Homo sapiens: one gene and its partners. The protein of the gene in region 1 interacts with the protein of each later gene in a biochemical or structural test. Each region holds a gene or a part of one and is shown in the gene's direction. Other genes may lie near its edges.

Region 1 (3,650 bases):
AGGAAAGGGAAGGGCCTGACAGTAAATATTTCAGGCTTTGCAGGCCACTCAACACTATTCCTCTCTGCCTTTCTGGTGGGAAAGCAGCCATAGGCAACCCAGAAAGCGAATGGGAGTGACTGTGTTACCAGTGAGACCTTCCTTACAAGCACAGGCGGGAGGTGGCTGGCCCCTGCCCTCGGTCCCTGTGCACCAGGTTGGATCTGGAAACGCTGGTGTCAGTGGAGAGTTGCTGGCTTCAGAGAGCAGTAACAAGGGCAAGAAGTCTTCATAAGTGTAGGAGTGCAAGCCTGTGTGTTTGTGTAGGATGTGTGTGTGAGTAGGTCTGTGTATGTGAGTTTGTGTGAGTGACAGCGTGCATGTGAGTGTGTGAGCCTGTGTAGGTGTGTGAGAGTTTATGGATGTGTGTTTGTGAGCATGTTTATGTGAGTCAATGTGTGAGCGTACCACCCCATATCTATGAGTGTGTGTCTATATGTGTGTGAATCTATGCATGTGTTTGAGTGTGTCTATGTGAGTCTATGTATGTGAGTCCGTGTATGAGTGTACCACCCATATCTATGTGTGTGAGTGTCTGTATGTGTGAGTCCATGCATGTGTGTTTGTGTGTGTTTATGTGAGTCTACATATGTGAGTCCGTGTGTGAGTGTACCACCCCGTATCTATGAGTGTGTGTGTGTCCATGCATGTGTTTGTGAGTGTATTTATGTGAGTCTATGTATGTGAGTCCGTGTGTGTGTACCACTCCATATCTATGAGTGTGTGAGTGTCTATGTGTGTGTGTCCATGCATGTGTGTTTGTGAGTGTGTGTTTATGTGCATCTGTGTGTGAGTGTACCACCCCGTATCTATGAGTGTGTGAGAGTCCATGCATGTGTTTGTGAGTGTGTTTATGTGAGTCTATGTATGTGAGTCCATGTATGAGTGTACCACCCCATATCTATGAGTGTGTGAGTATCTGTGAGTCCATGTGTCTGTGTTTGTGAGTGTGTGTTTATGAGAGTCTAGGTATGTGAGGGTGGGTGTCCGAGTGCATGTGCATAAGTGCTAGAGCCTCTCTGTGTGTTTGTGTGTGTGTGTGTGTGTGCCCGTGTGTGCACGTGGGGTGGTATACACACAGGGCTCCAGGGCTGGCATCAGGGGCGAGGCCAGTGGTTTTTGGTGGTTGGAGTCAGTGGAGTCAGGAACAGGACAGAGTCCCAGAGATAACAGGAAATAGAAGAATTGCTGCAATCGAACGTGCAAAGCTCTCTCAACTTTTCTGCTGACAAACCGCAAACTGCCCGCGTCCACCCCCACTCGTCCCCCTTCCTTCCTGCCACAGTAGAAGGGTGGGGCTGGCGTGGCTATCCTGGCTGCGCCCACGCCCTCCTGCTGCCCAGCAACCGCCCCGGGTGTGGATTCCATCGCTCCCTGGGCTTCCAGTCCCTCCCACCAGCCCCTGCCCCGCTGTGCAGAATATGCTCGGACCTCCTAGGGCCACATAAAACCACCCCCTCAGCCAGACCAGTTCCTGGTCATCCTGGCCTCAGGGCTGGGCACTGGGTCAGCTTCTGAGCAGGCAGGAGCTCTGCTCATGTGGACCTGACACACATTGCATGAGCAGACGGGAGGAAAAGAAGCCAGTTCCTGGGAGGGAGTGCACTGGCGAAGGAGTGTGTGGCGTGGGCAGAGAGCAGAGGTCAGGGGCCTCCCTGAGAAGGGCAGTGCGACTGGCATCTGAGGGGTGAGGAGAAAGGCCTGGCCAGAGTCCCAGCTTTATGACCATTGCAGGGCAGCTTCTGGGCTGTGCAGCTCACACACACCTTCCCCTCCTTCCCCTCCTTCCCCTCCTCTCTGCCCTGGGGCCAGCCTCCCTCCTCCACTCCCCTGAAATGGCTCCCAGCCATAATTAGCACAGGACAGAAACAGCAAATGCTGGTCGGTGTGGTAGGCTCACGCCTGTAATCCCAGCACTTTGGAAGGCCGAGGCCGGTGGATCACTTGAAGTCAGGAGTTCGAGACCAGCCTGGCCAACATGGTGAAATCCCATCCCACTAAAAATACAAAAATTAGTTGGATGTGGTGGTGCGCACCTGTAATCCCAGCTGCTTGGGAGGCTGAGGCAGGAGAATCGCTTGAACCCGAGAGGTGGAGGTTGCAGTGAGCTGAGATCATGCCACTGCACTCCAGCCTGGGTGACAGAGCGAGACTCTATCTCAAAAAAAAAAAAAAGTCCTTAGAACAACCAAGGCCTTTCTAAGAGTGTGCCCTAAGCAAGGCTGTGTGCTGAATGCTTTGAATCATCTCATTTGATATAAACACCCTGCTAGGCACGATGGCTCATGCCTATAATCCCACACTTTGGGAGGCCAAGGTGGGAGGACCTCCTGAGACCGGGAGTTTGAGACCAGCCTGGGCAACATAGGAAGGTACCATTTCTACAAAAAAAAAAAAAAAAAAAATGGCATAGTAGTGCATGCCTGTGGGCCCAGCTACTCAGGAGGCTGAGGTGGGAGGATCACTTAAATCTGGGAGGTCAAGGCTACAGAAAGCCATGATTTTGCCACTGCACTCCAGCCTGGGCGACACAGACTTTGTCTCAAATTAGAAAAAAAAATACAAACACTCGGGCAGGGACTCTTATTATTCCCATTTGCAGATGAAGAAACAGAGTCTATGGAGATGATCCATAACTTGCCCAAGGCCCCGGGATAAGAATGTGGTGGGCAGGGATTGAAACCAGGCTGTCGGGACTGGAACCAGTTGCTCAGTTCCAGGTCACCCTCCCAGGTTGCGGGCAGAGGGGCAGGGCTGGAGAGCTAGGTGCAGTGGAGAGGGCTGGAGGGCAGAAAGCCTGTGTACTCCCCCACTGGGTCCTGACAAGGTTGAGCCAGGTGATATCCAGGGGTCCCTTCAGCCTATGGCCTATCCAGAGCTGTCCAACCAAAAGAAAATGGGGCCGGGTGCCGTGGCTCACGCCTGTAATCCTAGCACTTTGGGAGGCTGAGGCAGGCAGATTGCCAGAGCTCAGTAGTTTGAGACCAACCTGGGCAACACGGTGAAACCTCGTCTCTACTAAAATACAAAAAATTAGCTGGGTGTGGTGGTGGGTGCCTGTAGTCCCAGCTACTCCTGAGGCAGAGACAGGAGAATTGCTTGAACCTGGGAGACGGAGGTTGCAGTAAGCAGAGATCGCGCCACTGCACTCCAGCCTGGGAGACAGAGTGAGACTCTGTCTCCAAAAAAAAAAAAAAAAAAAAGAAAGAAAGGAAGAAAAGAAAATGATGGGAGCCAAATAGATCATAAATAAATAGATTTATGATCAAAATAGATTACAATTTGATTTATTACAATCAATAGATCAAATTTTCTAGTAGCCACATTAAAAAGAAAACAAGTGAAATTAATTTCAATAATAGATTTTATTGAATTTCATACATCCAAAATACAATTATTTCAATAGATATTTAATGTAAAAGGTTATTAGATATTTTACAGTCTGTGTTTCTTACCAAGGCCACAATTCCAATGTGTATTTTACACTCACAACCTGTCTCATTTTGTACCAGCCACATTTCAGGTGTTTGATAGTCACATGTGGCCTGTGCCTGTATTGGACAGAGCAGGTTCTCACCTGCATGTGTCAGAATCACCTAGAGCAGGGGTTA
Region 2 (3,650 bases), on another chromosome or scaffold:
GGGCAACATGGTGAGTCCTGGTCACCACACACACACACACACAAAAATTAGCCAGGCATGGTGGTGTGCACCTGTAGTCCCAGCTACTTGGGAGGCTAAGGCAGGAGGATGGCTTGAGCCAAGGAGTTTGAGGCTGAAGTGAACCATGATTGCTCCACTGCACTTCAGCCTGGGCAATAGAGCGAGACTCTGTCTCAAATAATAAAAGTAAATAGGCTGGGCGCAGTGGCTCACGCCTGTAATCCCAGCACTTTGGGAGGGCAAAGTGGGCGGATCACCTGAGGTCGGGAGTTCAAGACCATCCTGGGCAACATGGCGAAATCCTGTCTCTATTAAAAATAGAAAAATCAGCTGGTCATGGTTACAGGCACCTGTAATCCCAGCTACTTGGGAGGCTGAGGCAGGAGAATCGCTTGAACCCAGGAGGTGGAGGTTGCAGTGAGCGGAGATCACGCCACTGCACTCCAGCCTGAGGGATAGAGCAAGACTCTGTCTCCAAAAAATAAATAAAAATAAATAAAAGTTGTCAATAGATTACCAAAGAACTCACCAAAAAGATTGAGCTGAGCTCATTAATTCCTTGCTGTAGTGTGGGTTCTGTGGTGATTTTATTATTATAATGTAACACCAAGCCACATTGTCAGTTAGTAACTTCTCAAAATGTTGAGTCAGTGGACACCGGGTAGGGTAAAAAGTCTTTGTGCCTGGTGCGGTGGCTCATACCTGTAATCCCAGCACTTTGGGAGGCCAAGGCAGGCAGATCTGTTGAGCTTAGGAGTTTGAGACCAGCCTGGGCAGCATAGGGAGACCCCATCTCTACAAAAAAAAATGAGTAGGCTATGGTGGCTGGTGCCTGTAGTCCCCACTAAGGAGGCTGAGGTGAGAGGATCCCTTGAGCCCAGGAGGCGGAGGTTGCAGTAAACCAAGATCACGCCACTGCCCTCCAGCCTTTGCTACAGAGTGAGACCCTTTCTGAAAAATAAATAAATAAATAAAAGTGTGTTTACTCAAAGTATTGCAGATTGGATTTTATAAATATTTTTAAAATTTGCCAATTAGTATATGAAAACTCTGATTGTTTTAATTTGCATTTCTTTTCATATGTTTTAAATAGAGTAACATTTAAAATTTCTTTTGAAGGCTGGGTGCAGTGGCTCATGCCTGTAATCCCAGCACTTTGGGAGGCTGAGGTGGGAGTTTGAGACCAGCCTGGCCAACATGGCGAAACCCCATCTCTACTAAAAATGCAAAAGTTAGCCAGGCTTGGTGGCGCGCACCTGTAGTCCCAGCTACTTGGGAGGTCGAGGCAGGAGAATTGCTTGATCCTAGGAGGCGGAGGTTGCAGTGACCTGAGATCGTGACACTGCAGTCCAGCCTGGGCGACAGAGCTAGATGCTGTCTCAAAAAATAAATAAATAAATAAATAAATAAATAAATAAATAAATTTTGAGTGATTATTACATGTCGGGCTCTATCCAGAGCACTTAATGTATGTTATATATGTTGTCTAATTTAATCCTCAGTGGATCTTATAAGGTAGATATTCTCATTTTACAGATGAGAAAACTGGAGCTTGTTTCACAACTTTGCCCACAACTGTAGCTGTAAGTGTGAGGGGCCTGCCTCTAGAGACCATGAAGATTCAACACTAAGCTATACTGGACTGTTGTCATGTATTTTATTTTCTGTGAATTTTGGGAAGAAGAGAGTTAAATGGAAGAAAGAAAAAAAATCTTGCAAATACCTTTAGGATAGTAGTTTTTTTGGATACAGTAGACATTGTTTGAAATGAATGATTAAAGCTGTACTTACCTTTCTTAAAATTCACTGCTTGGGATGGGCTGGTAACAGTTTCGAGGTTACTCTCATTAGGCTTCAGTGTTAAGTACACTATACCCCATTTTCTTGGGAAGTGAACAGCAACATCTACTCTGTTAAAATCATTATACATTGTGTCTGCTTTCAGATTTCTTCCTTTTAGTAATTAGTGTTGTGTATGTGTTAGATTTTTTTTTGTCTTTACTGAAACACACCCTTTGGAATTCCTTTAGCGAATATGCTCTTTTGGGTGGATAACCTAATAAGCTTTCCTCTTTGAGTTTTCTGTTTTTTTACTCAGCACAGCCATGGAAGTAGGGATTTAATTTTCTGTCAAACTCTGCATCTCACAAAGCAATAGTTACTCAAAACACGACTTTCAAGAAGGTTATTCTTTTTAAGCTTTCAGCAGATGAGCTGAGTAGCAGCAGGAAAGCAGGTATTGAGAACTGTCTTGGTTTTTGTACTGCTGTTGAGTAGTAACATTGCAGCTGTCTTAAATCCTGAATGACACAGAAGCTTATGGCTGGTCGTACTACATAGCACCTTGAAAGTGACAGGGCTTTTCATTTCTATCTGATTTCTGTTTTTCAAAAATAAAACTCCTTATTCTTTTCCTATCATTGTAAATATTCTTCAGCTTCCTATCACTAATACATAGTCTCGGCATTAGAGACCAGTTAAAATAAATAGGCTGAGGAAAATCTTGATAGTAGGAGAGATTTTGGAGCATTCATTAAAAGTAAAAATAGGGCTGGGCGTGGTGGCTCACTCTCCCCTGTATTCCTAGCACTTTGGGAGGCCGAGGCAGGCAGATTGCTTGAGGCCAGGAGTTTGAGACCAGCCTGGGTCTTAAAAGGTAGATATTATTCTCATTTTACAGATGACGAAACTGGAGCTTGTTTGAAAAGTTTGCCCAAAATTGTAGCAGTTAGCGTGAGGGGCCTGCCTCTAGAGACCATGCAAATTCAACACTAAGCTATACTGGACTGGTCTCACATAGTGAGACCCTGTCTCTACAAAAAATAGAAAAAGTAGCCGGGCATAGTGGCCCACACCTGTAGTTCCAGCTACTTGGGAAGCTGAGGCATGAGGATTACTTGAGCCAAGGAGATCAAGGATGCAGTAAGCCATGACCATGCCACTGCACTCGTGCCTGGACAACAGTGCAAGACCCTGTCTCAAAAAAAAAGAGAAAAGAAAAAGTAAAAGTAGATACACAGGGAACTAGGCAAGTAAAAAATAGAACATTAAGCAGTTGCTAATGCTGGGAAAAATCTAAGGATTGTACAAAAAAGTATGATTGGGTCAGGCACAGCGGCCGATGCCTGTAATCCCAGCACTTGGGGAGGCCAAAGTGGGCGGATCACTTGAGGCCAGGAGTTCAAGACCAGCCTGGCCAACATGGTGAAATCCCGTCTCTACTAAAAATATAAAAAGTAGCCAGGCTTGTTGGCACATGCCTGTAGTCCCAGCTACAGGCCGAGGTAGGAGGATCGCTTGAACCTGGGAGGTGGAGGTTGCAATGAGCCGAGATCATGCCACTGCACTCTAGCCTGGGCAATCTTAGAGAACTCTATCTCAAAAAAGAAAAAAAAAAAAACACAAAAAGTATGATTGGTTTTAGTGCATTATTTAAATTATCAGTGAGTAGTATTTCATAACATACTACTGATTAAACCAGAATATGTGATATTACTGGTATAGGTCGGGGGAAACTAAATCTTCACCTTTCAGGCAATAGATAATGGCTGGAATAAACTGAGAAAGCAGTAAAAGCACATTCTTTAGAAATACTCTATCCATTTTGTGCATTGACCACAAGATTTAAA
Region 3 (3,650 bases), on another chromosome or scaffold:
GAGGAAAGACGGTGAAGATTGCCAAAGTTTATGGATGGGGTGTGGAAAATTCACGAGTATTGTGATAATTCTTTCTGCCATGTTGTACCCCATTTTCTACGATTCAGTTGCTGTCTTTTTCTCTCTTCTGAGACAGAGCCTCTGTCACCCAAGCTGGAGTGCAGTGGCATGAACACAGCTCACTGCAGCCTTGACCTCCTGGGCTCAAGCCATCCTCCCACTTCATCCTCCTGAGTAGCTGGGACTCCAGGCGTATCCACCATGCCTGGTTAACTGTTGAAAATTTTTTTGTAGAGATGAGGGGTCTCACGGTATTGTCCAGGCTGGTCTCAAATTCCTGATCTCAATAGACTTCATGCTTCAGGCTCCCAAAGTTTTGGAACTGCAGGTGTGAGCCACTGTGCCTGGTCAGTTGCTGTCTTTTTTTTTTTTTTTCTTTTTGAGACCGAGTTTTTACTCTTGTCTCCCACGCTGGAGCGCAATGGCGCGATATTGGCCCACTGCAACCTCTGCCTTCTAGGTTTAATCAATTCTCCTGCCTCAGCCTCCTGAGTAGCTGGAATTACAGGCGCCCACCACCATGCTCAGCTAATTTTTGTATTTTTTTAGTAGAGATGGGGTTTCACCATGTTGGCCAGGCTGGTCTCGAACTGCTGAACTCTGATCATCCACCCACCTCGGCCTCCCAAAGTGCTGGGATTACAGACGTGAGCCACCAGCGCCTGGCCTGTCTGTATAACCTCAGAATTACTTTGTACCTCACAAATCTCAAGTACTAAGTACTGAATCTTTGTTCTCCCCCTCACCAAGTCCTTTTGAAGTCACACAGAGAAATTTCTTGAATTTTTTAGAGAGGCGTATAGAATATTAATAACTAATGTTTATTGACTGGTTATTCTGTGCCAGGTACTTTGAGTACTTTATGTACCTTATTTCACTTACTGTCTAGGACAATCTAGTGAGATAAGTAATATGATCTCCATTTATTAAAATATTCCCATTTTATACAGGAGGAAACACTCATAGATTCAGTAACTTGCTTAAGGTCACACAACTAATAAATGACTTTCAGAAGTTGAACCTAGGCATTCTGACCTGAGAGCTGACCCTTTTACACTACACTCTCAAAGCCAGCGTTCTTTTGGCATCTCAGCAGTGCACATAGAGGTCCGTATCCTCAATATCCTCAATACTTTGCCTCTGCCCTGGAGTCTAAGACTTGGTGTTTTTTGTTTTGTTGTTTTTGGATGGAGTTTCGCTCTTGCCCCCCGGGCTGCTACAGTGCAGTGGTGCAGTCTCGGCTCACTGAAACCTCTGCTTCCCAGGTTCAAGTGATTCTCCTGCCTCAGCCTCCCGAGTAGCTGGGATTACAGGCATGTGCCACTGTGCCCAGCTAATTTTTTTTTTTGTATTTTTAGTAGACACGGGGTTTCACCATGTTGGCCAGGCTGGTCTCGAACTCCTGACCTCAGGTGATCCGCCCACCTCGGCCTTGTGTTTTTTGTTTTTTTTTCCCCCCACTATGTTGCCCAAACTGGAGTGCAGTGGCTGTTGACAGGCACAGTCATAGTGCACTACAGCCCTTAACTTTGGGGCAGGCAGCCCTTCTGACTCAGGCTGTGAGTAGCTGGGACTACAGGCACATACAGCCGCATCCAGCCCAGGTTTTTTAAAGACCAGAATTAAAGAATGGCAAGAAGAGGCCGGGCGCAGTGGCTCATGCCTGTAATTCCAGCACTTTGAGAGGCCAAGGAGGGTGGATCACTTGAGGTCAAGAGTTCGAGACCAGCCTGGCCAACATGGTGAAACCTTGTTTCTACTAAAAAATACAAAAATTAGCTGGGCGTGGTGGCGGACGCCTGTAATCCTAGCTGCTGGAGAGGCTAAGGCACGAGAATCGCTTGAACCCCGGAGGCAGAGGTTGCAGTGAGCTGAGATCGTGCCACTGGCTTTATTATTCAGACAATACACATCTGCTATCTAAAGTCAATGATGAAGAAGCTTTTTAAAATTGTTATTGCTTTTTTTTTTTTTTTTTTTGAGACAGTTTCTCGCTCTGTCACCGAGGCTGGAGTATAGTGGCACGACCTCGGCTCACTGCAAGCTCCGCCCCGTGGGGTTCATGCCATTCTCCTACCTCAGCCTCCCGAGTAGCTGGGACTACAGGCGCCCGCCACCACGCCCGGCTAATTTTTTGTATTTTTAGTGGAGATGGGGTTTCACCGTGTTAGCCAGGATGGTCTCGATCTCCTGACCTTGTGATCTGCCTGCCTCGGCCTCCTAAAGTGCTGGGATTACAGGTGTGAGCCACCGCGCCCGGCCTATTTGTTTTGTTTTGTTTTGTTTGAGAGGGAGTTTCGCTCTTGTTGCCCCGTCTGGAGTGCAGTGGCGCGATCTCAGCTCACTGTACCCTCCACCTCCTGGGTTCAAGCAGTTCTCCTGCCTTAGTCTCCCAAATAGCTGGGATTACAGGCATGCGCCACCATGCCCAGCCAATTTTTTTGTATTTTTAGTACAGACGGGGTTTTGCCACGTTGTCCAGGCTGGTCTTGAACTCCTGGCCTCAAGTGATCCGCTCGCCTCGGCTTCCCCAAAGTGCTGGGATTACAGGTGTGAGCCATCGCATCTAGCCTACAGAGTATATTTTGTTTACACAGTGCATAGGTGAAAATTATATGGAATGGCTTAGGTGTCATTTTTATGTGTTTTTTTTCTTTTTTTGAGACAGAATCTCGCTCTGTCGCCCACGCCGGGCCGGAGGGCAGTGGCGCGATCTCGGCTCACTGAAAGCTCCGCCTGCCGGGTTCACGTCATTCTCCTCCCTCAGCCTCCTGAGCAGCTGGGACTACAGGCGCCCGCCACTATGCCCGGCTAATTTTTTGTATTTTTAGTAGAGAGGTGTTTCACCGTGTTAGCCAGGATGGTCTTGAGCTCCTGACCTCGTGATCCGCCCACCTTGGCCTCCCAAAGTGCTGGGATTACAGGCCTGAGCCACCGCGCCTTATTTTTTAAACTTTATTTATGTTTTGAGACAGAGTCTTGCTCTGTTGCCCAGGCTGGAGTGCAGTGGGACGATCTCAGCTCACTGCAACCTCCCCCTCCCGGGTCAAGCCATTCTCCTGCCTCAGCCTCTTGAGTAGGTAGCTGGGATTACAGGCATGCGCCACCACTCCCAGCTAATTTTTTTGTATTTTTAGTAGAGATGGGGGTTTCACCATGTTGGCCAGGCTGGTCTCGATCTCCTGACCTCAAGTAATCCACCTGCCTTGACCTCCCAAAGTGTTAGGATTACAGGCGTGAGCCACCGTGCGCAGCTGGGTATTATTTTTAAAGGCATGGGTACAGAATGGGCCAGTGATTCTCAGCCTTTTCCGTTGAACCTGTTTTTAACTTGTCTTGGGTCCTCAGCTTGCATAGGCTTCCTGTGGTGCCATAGCTTGGGAGTTCCCTGGGGCCATAAGGAAGGGCTTGGCCAAGTCTACTGGTCACATTCTGTCAGGTTGGGCTTCAAGATGGACCTCCTTGGAATGCTTGCAAGAAACTAGTTTTTTTTCTCTTGAACAGCTAAACCTTTCAGGTTGACACAGCTGAAGGAGTGTGAGTTAGGAGAGTCGTTATAAGCTTGAGCTGTGGATCCTGGGTTGGGCCTT

Evidence for each region.
Region 2: the proteins of INPP5D (region 1) and GRB2 interact in a test that uses a peptide from one of them, tested with the Homo sapiens proteins (2 studies listed by BioGRID).
Region 3: the proteins of INPP5D (region 1) and CRK interact in a test that uses a peptide from one of them, tested with the Homo sapiens proteins (one large-scale study listed by BioGRID and IntAct).

The regions. Positions count from the first base shown.
Region 1 is NC_000002.12:233,164,784-233,168,433, forward strand, and holds part of INPP5D (phosphatidylinositol 3,4,5-trisphosphate 5-phosphatase 1), read left to right. Parts: intron 1-3,650. UniProt on the Homo sapiens protein: Phosphatidylinositol (PtdIns) phosphatase that specifically hydrolyzes the 5-phosphate of phosphatidylinositol-3,4,5-trisphosphate (PtdIns(3,4,5)P3) to produce PtdIns(3,4)P2, thereby negatively regulating the PI3K (phosphoinositide 3-kinase) pathways.
Region 2 is NC_000017.11:75,395,612-75,399,261, reverse strand, and holds part of GRB2 (growth factor receptor-bound protein 2), read left to right. Parts: intron 1-3,650. UniProt on the Homo sapiens protein: Non-enzymatic adapter protein that plays a pivotal role in precisely regulated signaling cascades from cell surface receptors to cellular responses, including signaling transduction and gene expression.
Region 3 is NC_000017.11:1,449,583-1,453,232, reverse strand, and holds part of CRK (adapter molecule crk), read left to right. Parts: intron 1-3,650. UniProt on the Homo sapiens protein: Involved in cell branching and adhesion mediated by BCAR1-CRK-RAPGEF1 signaling and activation of RAP1.